2 linked regions of the Homo sapiens genome follow. The protein of the gene in region 2 purifies or fractionates together with the protein of the main gene of each other region. This does not show direct contact. Each region holds a gene or a part of one and is shown on either strand. Other genes may lie near its edges.

Evidence for each region.
Region 1: the proteins of PBRM1 (region 2) and BCL7A purify together in Homo sapiens (affinity purification with mass spectrometry; 4 studies listed by BioGRID and IntAct, with this or other methods). This does not show direct contact.

What each region holds. Positions count from the first base shown.
Region 1 is NC_000012.12:122,052,599-122,059,883, reverse strand, and holds part of BCL7A (B-cell CLL/lymphoma 7 protein family member A), read right to left. Parts: intron 5,080-7,285; coding exon 4,958-5,079; coding exon of another isoform or gene 4,895-4,957; intron 793-4,894; coding exon 721-792; 3' UTR 1-720.
Region 2 is NC_000003.12:52,544,829-52,550,160, forward strand, and holds the end of PBRM1 (protein polybromo-1), read right to left. Parts: intron 3,408-5,332; coding exon 3,235-3,407; 3' UTR 539-3,234; downstream 1-538. UniProt on the Homo sapiens protein: Involved in transcriptional activation and repression of select genes by chromatin remodeling (alteration of DNA-nucleosome topology). Required for the stability of the SWI/SNF chromatin remodeling complex SWI/SNF-B (PBAF).

The sequences.
Region 1 (7,285 bases), on a different chromosome or scaffold from region 2:
CGAGTGCCCAGCCTGATCCAAGGGGCCGAGCCCTTGGGGACTGTGCCCCAACACCTGCGCGTCCTTGGGCCCTGGTGCCTGGTGCTTGGGGCGTGCCTAAGGTCCCCCTGCACCTGCAAACCAGGTGGGCTAAGGAGCTCCTTCGCTCCACCCTGCCTGCTCCGATGAAGTCCTGGGGCAGGGAGGAGAGCGGTGAGTAGGGTGGCAGCCGCCGCCCGAACCAAACCAAGAGGGCACTTTGCAGAGGGGGATGTAAGAACCACCAGGATACATGCCAGAGGTCACCTCAAGGGCACAAGGCACAAAAAAAGAAAGCGGAAGGAATCGGTTGAACAGTGGAAAGCCCCGCCAAAAAGCGTTCCTGATCGGTACCACCCTCCGATAGCTTATATCGTTACATAGAGAAGTGGGGGGAAAATACAGCAGCAACACAAATGGAATCCTGGCTTCCGAGACAGTGTGCAGACACTCCTGAGCTGTCAGCCCCGCCTGCCTCCCCAAGGACAGTCCCTTAAAGGTTTGAGTGTTTTGCTTCACAGCAGAGTTCTTCAGTGTCTGAGAAGTGACGCCGTTCTGGGTCTTCTTGGATTTGCACTTGGTAAACTTGAAACGTTAGTAGTTCTGTTCGCACCCAAGAGGAATCGCTGGGGCAAAGTTGCTCTAGAATTAATTGCTGATGTACCTTCCATGGAACATGGATCGGAGGCTTTAAAGCATCGTCTACATCTCTTCGGAGTTTTGTTGAGAGGCCTCCAGTTTCATCTTTTTAGAGGGTGGCACTCCTTCCAAATCCTTGGGGAGAGGAGAAAAGGGGAACACAGGTTAATGGGCCAGGAGAGCAAGTTAGGCCAGGCGTGAGGCCGAAGGTCAGCCAAGGAAGGAACCGAGCGGGGGCGGCTTTGTGGTTCAGACCAGCAGTTCCAGACCCGAGGCCCAAGCGTGGACTCCAGAGAGTTTGAGGACCTATGGAGACCCTCACACCCAAACTCTTCCTGGAGCTATGGAGCGCGGTGTCCCCTGGCCCCTGCCTGACCCTATCACATGCCAATGGCTGGTAACTCGGGAGCATTTCCTACACTGCTGCCTTGGACCCTAGGCTCTCCCCACTCATTCAGACTGGACCAGAAGTTGCTGTTATCAATCTTCCCATCTATGATTCATTGCTAGGGTGATTACTTGTGATTATTGTTTCAAGTTCACCTTTCCAAGTTCTTGTTTTTGTTGTTGAGATGGAGTCTCACTCTGTTGCCAGGCTGGAGTGCAGTGGGGCAATCTTGGCTCACTGCAACCTCCGCCTCCTGGGTTCAAGTGATTCTCCTGCCTCAGCCTCCCAAGTAGCTGTGATTACAGGCACGCGCCACCATGCCCGGCTAATTTTTGTATTTTTAGTAGAGACGGGGTTTCACCATGTGGGCCAGGCTGGTCTCAAACTCCTGACCTCAGGTTATCTGCCCACCTCGGCCTCCCAGAGTGCTGGGATTACAGGTGCACACCACCATGCCTGGCTAATTTTTTGTATTTTTGGTAGAGACAGGGTTTCACCATGTCTCCATGTTTCACCATGTTGGCCAGGCTGGTCTCAAACTCCTGACCTCAGGTGATCTGCCCGCCTCACCTTCCCAGAGTGCTAGGATTACAGGCGTGAGCCACCGCACCAGCTTTTCCAAGTTCTTTTTATAATTTTTTTTAGAGACAGAGTCTTGCTTTGCTGCTCAGGCTGGGGTGTAGTGGTCATCATAGCTCACTGCAGCCTCGACTTCCTGGTCTCAGAGGATCCCCCTGCCTCAGCCTCCTGAGTAGCTGGGACTATATGCATGTGCCACCATGCCCGGATGATTTTTTTTTTTTAAGTTTTTTGTAGAGATGGGGTCTTGCTATGCTGCCCAGGCTGGTCTTGAACTCCCGGGCTCAAGGGATCCTCCTGCCTCAGCCTCCCAAACTGCTTGGATTACAGGTGTGAGCCATGATGCCTGGCAATCTCTGCAAGTTCTAGGCCATCTCCCAGAGGCCCAGACCCACTCTGCCATGTAGACTCCTGCTCCTGCAGGGCTGGGCACAGTGCCTGGTCTGGGCTGGACTCTCAGCATTTGCTGGGTATACACATATGTGTGTGTGTTATTCTGGGGGAAAGGGTCTGTAGTTGTCACTGAATTCCCATGAAACCCAGGACACCAGAAAAGGTTTAACACTCACTCATCCATCACACAATTGTCTTGGGCCTCTCAAACCTAACCTGTCACCTGAGACCAAACTCCTGACCGCAGCCATCCTAACTGGTGCTCCCCATCAGCCTGGGAGAAAGACCCAGGCCTGGACACCCCCTGAAGCCACCTCTCCGCCCGCACCCCCCCTCCAACCCGGCCTCTGGCCTGGCTGATGGAGCAGCCTGCTTGTGGCCAACAGGATGGCCCCAGCAACCTTCCTCCAATAGAAACCACAACTTACAAATACAAAGCATTCCACAACTTTCCTACTGACTTCTGAACAAACCCAGTTCCTCACCAGGACCAAGAAGGCCCTAGTGACAAGCCTGGCCCACTTCTTCCCTCATCAGACCATTCTCTTCCTCACCCACCAGGTTCTGGCCTCCCCGGCCACCCTGGCCTCTCTTTCGTTCTTCAAGCTGGCTCCTGTCTTGAGGTCTCTGCACCTTGGTCTGCCCCTGCCTGGAGAGCTCACCGTCCCAGCCTGGGCCCCCTTCATGTCCGGCTCACAGCCAGCCCCTCCCTGCTGACGCCAGCCACAGCACCCTCTACCCATGGCCTGTTCTGCTTCTTCACGTCACCCTGTTTCACTCTCTCACGGCACTTAGTGGGACTCTGTGACCTACTTGTGTCTGCTTATCCTGAGCCCATTGTCAGCCCCACTGTGGCAGGCAGGGATTAGGTATAGCCCCTGGTCCATGGTGGGTTCTCAGAGATAAATGTTGCAGAGGAGAGGCCTCGAGTAGGACATGCGATGGACTTGCAGAGACAGTGACATGAGCCCCTTCTGGGGGACCCTGGGAGCAGGGATCGCAGGGAGTCAGGAAGGCTACCTTTCTGTCCTTTCTCTCCTTTTTTCTGTATTTATTTTTTTGAGACAGGGTCTTGCTCTGTCACCCAGGCTGGAGGGCAATGGTAGGATCATAGCCCACTGCAGCCTTGAACTCTCAGGCTCAAGCAATCCTCCCGCCTCAGCCTCCAGAGTAGCTGGGACTATAGGAGCGCACCACCATGCCTGGCTAATTTTCTTTTTCTTTTTGTTGGAGAGACGGGGTCTTGCTATGTTGCCCAGGCTGGTCTCGAACTCCTGGCCTCAAGTGATCCACCTGCCTCAGCCTCCCAAAGTGCTGGGCTTACAAATGTGAGCCACTGCACCCGGCCAAAAACGTATTGCTTGAAATGTCAGGCTGTCTGCTTTACTGGAGTACATCCTCCATGTCACTCACACACCTAGCTCTGTGGACAATATGTGTGTCGGTGTGCCTGTGAAAATGGTGGAAGAGGCCCAATTTTAGGTCTGGGTCTCCTGGAAGCAAGAGTGTGGGGTAGTGGGGGCGATGTGAGAATGGGGGACTCCTGGCATTTCCAGGTACTGCGGGGGAGCATTGGATACTCTCAGGGTATGGATCAAAGTTTCAAGCTGAGCTTTTCTTCTCTGAGATCAAGAGGCCCAGAGATCCCAGCCGACAACTTTGGTCTTAATATAAATCACCAGGCTTTGGTTTCTACTGTTTTTAACCAGATGGGCTCATGCTACGCCTGCGGATCTGCAGCTTGCTTTTCTCACTGCACGCTGCAAGAATGTTTATCAGAACCTGGAAGGCACAACCATGCTCTTCTAGATGGCTGCGCCCTAGTCTGTCTCAGACAAGACCCCAGATTTCCCTAAGCAGCCCCTTAGAGCTAGGGCATGTGGAGGGGGTTCCATGGGGTGAGGTTCTGGAAAGGGACCTGCCAATCAAAGGGTTTAAAGATTTTGAAGTTGCCAGGCGCAGTGGCTCACGCCTGTAATCCCAGCACTTTGAGAGGCTGAGGGAGTGGATCATTTGAGGTCAGGAATTTGAGACCAGCCTGGCCAACATGGTGAAACCCATCTCTACTAAAAATACAAAAATCAGCCAGGCAGAGTGGTAGGCACCTGTAATCCCACCTACTTGGGAGGCTGAGGCAGGAGAATTGCTTGAATCCAGGAGGTGGAGGTTGGAGTGAGCCGGGATCATGCCACTGCACTCCAGCCTGGGTGACAAAGTGAGACTCTGTCTCGAAGGAAAAAAAGTCTAGAGGATTTACAGTGAAAAATCCTAATAGTGGTCATGGCCAATGACACCTCTGCATCTTGTGTCCGCTCCATGCTAAGTGTTTTACCCAAGTTCTCCCATCGAATCCTCACGGTGGCCCTAAGACAGTTCCGTGATCCCATTTTGGGAGCTGGGATTCAAACTTGGGCCCGACTCTGGGAGGTTTGCTCCTAACCACCGGGCCCCACTGCACCTGTGCTGACTCATTCAGACCAGATTCCAACACAGAGTGATGCCCTGGAGAGGGGCCCATGCAGTGCAAGTGGGGCCAGCAGCACCGCTCCGTCGGAGGCCCCACCACTTAGGTTTCTGAAGTCTTGTCTTCCCAGCTCTAAAGGTCACCGATCTGGGGATCACTGAGATGAGGCAATGCCTGTGTGAACCTGAACAGACAAAACGTAGCAGCCGAGGCTGGGTTCAAGGTCCCTTCATCCTCCTCCGACCCAGAGGCTCCTTGAGGGCAGAGGCCACAAGTCTCATTATCCCTCGGCCCCAGAGCCCAAGGCAGAGCCCAGGACTGTGTTCATGGACATAGCCCAATGGACAAATGACAGTTCCAATGGTCCAACGACAAAACAACAAAACACAATGACGAAACACCTTTCAACGTACCCCCGACAACCCAATGGGCTCCCGGCCGATCTGGCTGCCCCTCTGAGACCTCGAGCGAGGTACCTGAGAGATTGCAGACGTCTCTGCGGCCAGACCCGAGTCTCCAGACGGCTGCCGATCTACTTTCTCTGAGCTGTTCATCGAATGTTCCATCGAGGACTGTGAATTCTGCTCATCAGAAGCATCTGAGGGAAGAGCAAGACGACAGGAGCTGTTTTCAGACACGTGAGAGGCGGGGCCGGTGGGGCCAAATACTGAAAATACCTTGAATCGGGTAGTTTTGGGGCCAGTGGTCTTTGAAGGCTACAATGAGCTGGGGGGCTGGAGGGCTGGGGAGTCTCCTGTTGATTTTTCAGTGGCGCTGTTTCCAGCAGCCAGGTCACACACGGACCCTGGCGTCTGCAACCCTCTCCTGCACACTTAGCTGCTGAGGGCCCTGGGAGGCGACTGGAGGAGGCTGCAGTCTCTGTGCTGCGTGCACCCAGCACCCCCTGGCGGCCGCAGTGCGCACCAACAATCATGGCTGTCAATTCCTCTCTCCCGCAGCCAAGGTGGCTTCGTCCTAACCTTTTGTAAACATTTCTCTTAATAATATGGGTATTTGGCCGGGCACGGTGGCTCAGGCCTGTAATCCCAGCACTTTGGGAGGCCGAGGCTGGCGGATCACGAGGTCAGGAGATCGAGACCATCCTGGCTAACACGGTGAAACCCCGTCTCTACTAAAAATACAAAAAATTAGCCGGGCGTGGTGGCGGCGGGCGCCTGTAGTCCCACCTACTCGGGAGGCTGAGGCAGGAGGATGGCGTGAACCCGGGAGGCGGAGGTTGCAGTGAGCCGAGATCGCGCCACTGCACTAAAGCTTGGGTGACAGAGCGAAACTCCGTCTCAAAATAATAACAATAATAAGGGTATTTTTCCGATTGCCAGAGCAATGACTGACCATTGCAGGAAACAGAAAAGTACAGAAAAAATAAAGTTAAAAATCACCTGTCACCACCCAGGGACCACCCCACTAATGTTTTAGAGGATTAATTCCCGTCTTTCCAGTTTCCCCTCCCTCCATGCGTACAAATTTTCTCCTCTTCCCAAATGGGGGTCATGTGGTATTTCGGAGGAATTCTTCATGTCTTTAAAGGTTCTTTAAATATCACAGCTTACAAGATGGCCGCACACCATTCCATCAAGGAATCGCCAGTAGAATGAACCCAGTTATTCGGGTGATTTCTCATGCCTGTCTTCCTGCTGCTCCACCCCAAGTTTTCTTTAGCAGAAGGAAGGTGCAGGCTGGATGGGGCGGGGGGGTGGGTGCAGCTTGGGAGGAGGCAGTGGCGGCAGCGGTTTTTCCTAAAGCTTACTGGACACAGAGCCAGACACTCGTGAAGGGGCAGCAAAAATCCTACCCGAGGCCCGGACACCATGGTACCCTGATGTTAAAAAGCACACACGAAACGAATCCTAGAGAATGCCTGTGCGACCAAGACTTCCCTGCTGGGGTTTCTGAGGCAGAGTAATAACAAAGGGGAAAATAACCCATGCTTAAGTTTAAAAGCAAGCAGGCAAGATGGGAAGAAGAAGGAGACAGTGCAGGGCCTGGGACAGGCCGGGACACAGAGGGCGGGGGAACGGGACAGCAAGACCCTCCTTCCCAGGGAGTCTGAGCAGGGTTGACACTTACTTCTCAGACTAGGAGCCCTGGCCGGGCGCGGCGGCTCACGCCTATAATCCCACCACTTTGGGAGGCCAAGGCAGGCGGATCACTTGAAGTCAGGAGTTCAAGACCAGCCTGGCCAACATGGTGAAACCCCGTCTCTACTAAAAATACAAAAATTAGCCAGGCATGGTGGTGCACGCCTGTAATCCCAGTTACTCGGAGGCTGAGGCAGGAGAATCGTTTGAACCCAGGACCACCTCCTGGATTGGGAGCCGAGATCATGCCACGGCACTCCAGCCTGGGCGACAGAGTAAGACTGTCTCAAAAAACGACAACAACAACAAAAACAGGCTAGGCACGGTGGCTCACGCCTGTAATCCCAGCACTTTGGGAGGCTAAGGTGGGTGGATCGGCTGAGGTCAGGAGTTTGAGACCAGCCTGGCCAACATGGCAAACCCCCCCCCCCCCCCGACTAAAAAAATACAAAAGTAAGCCAGGCGTGGTGTCGCGCGCCTGTAATCCCAGCTACTTGGGAGGCTGAGGCAGGAGAATCCCATAAACCCAGGAGGCGGAGGTTCCAGTGAGACAAGATCATGCCACTGCACTCCAGCCTGGGTGACAGAGTGAGACTCTGTCTCCAAAACAAAACAAAACAAAAAACAAAACAATAAAAAAACAAAAAGAAAGAAAACATTATGCTGAGTGAGAAGTCAGACACAAAAGGCCACAGAGTATATGAT
Region 2 (5,332 bases):
TATCCTAAATTCAGGAGAACAGAACCACAGGGATTTGCAAAGTGATATTAGAGGAAAACAGTTGGTTGCTTTTACCAACACTTTCTATTAAAAGCATGGTCATGTTTTAAGAGTTTATAAAGATGTTAAAGACACCTGGGCCACCTGTTTCTTCTGGCCACAGACAAGCTATTTGAAGTGGGCTATACTGCTTACATGCTTTCCTCACTTTCCGCCCTCAGTAATTCTCCAATTTTAATTTCAACCTGCATTTCTGCCCATGCTGAGGACATGTAGGAATTCCTTGACTGCCAGCCTGAGGCGTGGCGTGGGGCACTTCAGTCTGCAGTCTGACTACATTTGGCTCTGTGTTAATGCAGCCCGAGCCCTGAACCAGAGGTCTGGACACTGACTTTCATCTCCATCTGTGGAGCTTTGTTCTCTTAAATTGGCAGTCACATACAACCTTGTCAGCATGAAATCAGGGCTTGCAGGAGTTAAATCTGCTTGAAACATCTGACACCACTTTAACAGAACAACCAAACCTGGTTAATCCAAATCACTTTGCAAACTCTGTATTTATTTGGATTAAAAAGCTTTAGATGAACAACAAAAAAAAGATACATACATGTTATAAGACTAGTTACCACGTAAACCTCAGATGATATGATACAGAAATTAGAATAAACCAAGTTTTAATCAGGTATGAAAACATTCAAGCTCAAAATCATCAACACCAATTTGGGGATTTTACAGAAATAGGTGCCCCTCTCAATTCTTCCTCATAGGAAGGGGAGAGTGGCTTAAAAAAAAAACAACAACCAAAACAGTTAAAGGCCTTTTAAATCAGTTGGCTGACAAACATACTGTTTTAAACCTACAGGTTCCCCTCAGTCCCCCCGTTTGCAATATAAACAATTCTTCTCCACAGGAACTTACATTTTGAAAACATTTAGGCCATTATACTTTCTAAGCCACATTACTACAGTTCCTAAAACTTATGAAAAAAAGGTGTATAGTTTACTTGTACTTTCTTGAGTCAATTTTTTTTTCTTTTTTGAAGATGGCTGACCTCAAATCTTATATCCTAAATATTAACGATATCCCCCAAGTTAATATACAGAAAAACATGATTCTAAAATAAATACACAGGCTTTTTAAAAAAAACTTAATTAGGGCCTGTCTAGTGATGCCCTGGGCCGGTGCTGCACTGCTTTAGGGAAGCCCCTGGCTGGATCTATGTTTCCTATAGCACCTCTAGGCACTGGGAAGGAGCCTGGAGGAGAGCTCTGGCTTCTAATGACCCACGTGGCCCCCAGTGAAAAATTTTTTTAGAGGCTCCCCAAAGAAGTCTCATCCAGACCTTAAGGGAAATAAAATGAATGCATGAAATAAATAAATAATTTAACCACAACTAAATTTCATGTTCTTTGGTGTAATTCAAGGATGTCTAGAAACAAAATAATCTGATTGCATTATACAGTCCATGATGATTCAATTGCCCAAATAGCCAGGAATTGAAGATTTATCTGACTCACTTTAACAATAAGGTACTGACACACTACTGCAATACATTTTTTTAAATTCAATATTATTTAAAATACTTGATGCAAATTCAAATCCAGTGGTTGACTAAAGGCAATTAAGTTAAAGGGCCTCCCATATTTAAAGTATCTAGATACAAGAGACTTTTTTCCATTCTACACTCTTTTGCCCTCATGATTTAATAAGTACAGTAATTAAACATCTGGGTACTGATTCATAGCAGATTAAAAGGAAAAAAGCATCCTCTGAGATTAACTCTCTCAGATTATAAACAGCAGTGGAAGCTCTACCACAATGGCAATCACCCAGTTACTATAAAGCAGGTTTCAAAAACATGCCGCCAAGTGAAACAATGTTCCTACTGTCTGCCATCCTATGCTGCCTTCAAATGTTTATTGTAGGGTCATATAAGAAAGACAGGGTCACCAAACCCAAGTGTTTGGGATCTGTAATGGTCTTTCTAGTAAGCGTTTTATTAAATTATGATTCCCTTCTCCTGTAATTCAAAAGCACAAGCTAAATTTAAAAAATATTTTAGAAAGTATTAAATTTCTGGTTGAGAATTATAACAACATTGAAACTTAAAAGAAAAAATACATCTGATAATAAGGAAATAAGGAATACTAAAACATACTTGTATATGAAGGCAATCAATCTACTTGTTCACAATTATGCTTCTTATACAGCTCATATCTAGTTCCATACTCTCTTACCCATGTTAGGTTAGGTGTTATGTTTAAAAATAAATCACCTCCATGCATACCTTAATGCTTTCTTCAAGACGAACTTCAATGTTTTTCAATGTAACAGGTTTAAAATTTTAAATCATCTGAAATTTATAGGCATAAATTGTGAATTCATTATAAATAGATCAAAATATCCTTAAACGTACCTGCCTAGATTAAACATACCTCAGGGTTGTGCACGTGTTCTGCAAAAATCACTGACACCATAGTCTAACTCACAGATGTCTAACTCAGCACAATTGAAAAAGTGCTTTTTCCCCTCCTGGTGTCCAGGAGGTACATTAGCTGCAGACAGATGCACAGCACTGATTACATATTTCTGTAGTGAGCCTCTGAGTTAATAGAGCAAATGTGCTGTGTCTATTAAACATCTAAAACCTAAATAACCACCTTTCAAAGAAAGCACTTCATCTGTAAGAAACAGCTTTTGCAGAAAGTGGCTTAAGATATTCAGGCACATGAAACAAACACAAGTATACTCCCCTCTCTAAGATGTAAACTAGGACAAACTTCACATTTCATTATCAATTTAAACTAATCTGTAAACTCTTGTGTGTGTGTGTTTTTTTTCATTTTGTTCTTTTATATATATATATAAAAAAACCCAAAACCAAGAAAACAAAAACCCCAAGCCAAGACAAAAACCTCTAATGGTTTCAGTTCCATGGCAACAAGTAAAAAGATAAAACTCCAAGTCTACATATACAACCAATTATGAAACTGGTTTTAAACGAAGGAAACATATGCAAAAAAATCTTTGTGTATTTGATAAAGTCAACTTAATATAACAAACAAATTGAAATAGCTTATTAAAAGTGTCCGTATATAAAAATGGCCTTGTGATGTACAGTAAAATGCAATAAAAATTATCCTCCTTTGTTCCTTCCCCCCACCCCCAGTAACTAAAATGGCTACTGATCCACAACTCTTTATGCTTCTATATAAAAGAAACGTAATGATGTGATTAAACATTTTCTAGGTTGTATGCTTGGCGAATGTTGAGGGTGTCCCGGAGCATCAAATCTCGAAGGCGCCAGAGGGCATCTGCCATGGTGGTGTGGGCCCCTTTGCTTTTCAGCCAGTGAGAGGGTAGGCGGCTCTCCTGTTCTTTCGACAAATGGACGTCGCGTCTTCGAGCTGAAAATTAAAGTACAGAGAGACAGAAATTAGAATTTTAAGTTGGCAAAATTTCCCTCAGTTCTAAGGTCTGACGAACTTATTAAAACACAAAACATTGAATATTTATTAAATATTATGAATTTTAACTGCAGAATATTTCCAGGCACATTTCTTATATCATTTTACTAGGCACTAAAAGATTTGATCATAAATTTTTTTTTTTTTTTGACATCGAGTCTCGCTCTGTCGCCCTCGCTGGAGTGCAGTGGCGCGATCTCAGCTCACTGCAACCTCTACCTCCTGGGTTCAAGCGATTCTCCTGCCTCAGGCTCCAGAGTAGCTGGGATTACAGGAATCTGCCACCAAGCCTGGCTGATTTTTCTATTTTTAGTAGAGACAGGTTTCACCATGTTGGCCAGGCTGGTCTTGAACTCCTGACCTCAGGTGATCTGCCTACCTTGGCCTCCCAAAGTGCTGGGATTACAGGTGTGAGCCACTGCACCCGGCCTGATCATTATTTTTTTGTAGGCATCCCTGATATTTAATAATTACTTCAATGTTAACAAAAATTCCTAAAAAGGTAAACATGTGAAGAAAGGGAAAATATACCTTCTACTCTAAAGAAATGAAATGAGATGACCAAAGTTGGTTTAGAAATCAAGAACAAGTAGAAACTTCCAAACTTCTCTCCAGAAACTACACAAGTACTTTAGTACATACTGAAAATACATAAGTATGTTGAACTAAATGAATAGCCTAATCGGTTTCTAATATTTTTTTCCTTTTGTTAAACTGAGGTAAAATAGTTTTTTTTTTTTTTTTAGACAGAGTCTTATTCTGTCACCCAGGCTGGAGTGCAGTGGTGCGATCTTGGCTCACTGCAACCTCCACCTCCGGGTTCAAATGATTCTCGTGCCTCAGCCTCCCAAGTAGCTGGGATTACAGACACCAGACACCACGCCCAGCTAATTTTTGTATTTTTAGTAGAGATGGGATTTCACCATGTTGGCCAGGATGGTCTTGATCTCCTGACCTCAAGTGATCTGCCCGCTTCAGCCTCCCAAAGTGCTGGGATTACAGGCGTGAGCCACCGCTCCTGGCCCTCATCTGGCTAATTTTTAATTTTTTTGTAGAGACGGGGTTTTGCCATGTTGTCCAGGCTGGTCTCAAACTCCTGAACTCAATCGATCTGTCCACTTCAGCCTCCCAAAGTGGGAGCCACCGTGCCTGGCCAATAATTTTTAATTTACCCAATGCATCTATACTAATGTCCAAATGCCTGAAAAACAAAACAAAACAAAACAAAACAACAAACAAAAAACAATGTACTTAAAAAGATGGCAGTGATGTTTATGAGAAAACTAGGCTTTGAAATTTGGCAAAAAAAACCACAACAACACTTTTAGGCAGGGCGCTGTGACTCATGCCTATAATCCCAGCTCTTTGGGAGGCTGAGGTGAATAGATCACCTGAGGTCAGGAGTTCGAGACCAGCCTGGCCAAAACGGCGAAACCCCATCTCTACTAAAGATAAAAAAATTAGCTGGGCGTGGTGCTGAGCACCTGTAATTCCAGCTGCTCAGGAGGCTAAGACACAAGAATCGCTTGAACCTGGGGGTCGGAGGTTGCAGTAAGTCGAGATTGTACCACTGCACTCCAGCCTGGGCGACAGAGTGAGACTGTCTCAAAAAAAAAAAAACAACCCAAAAACCATTTTCAGGCCAGGCACAGTGGCTCACGCCTGTAATCCCAGCACTTTGAGAGGCCGAGGCAGGTGGATCACTTGAGGTCAAGAGTTTGAGACCAGCCTGGCTGATATGGTGAAACCCCATCTCTACTAAAAATATAAACATTAGCCAGGTGTGGTGGCATGTGCCTGTAATCCCAGCTACTGGGGAGGCTGAGGCAGAAGAATCAGTTGAACCTGGAAGGCGGAGACTGCAG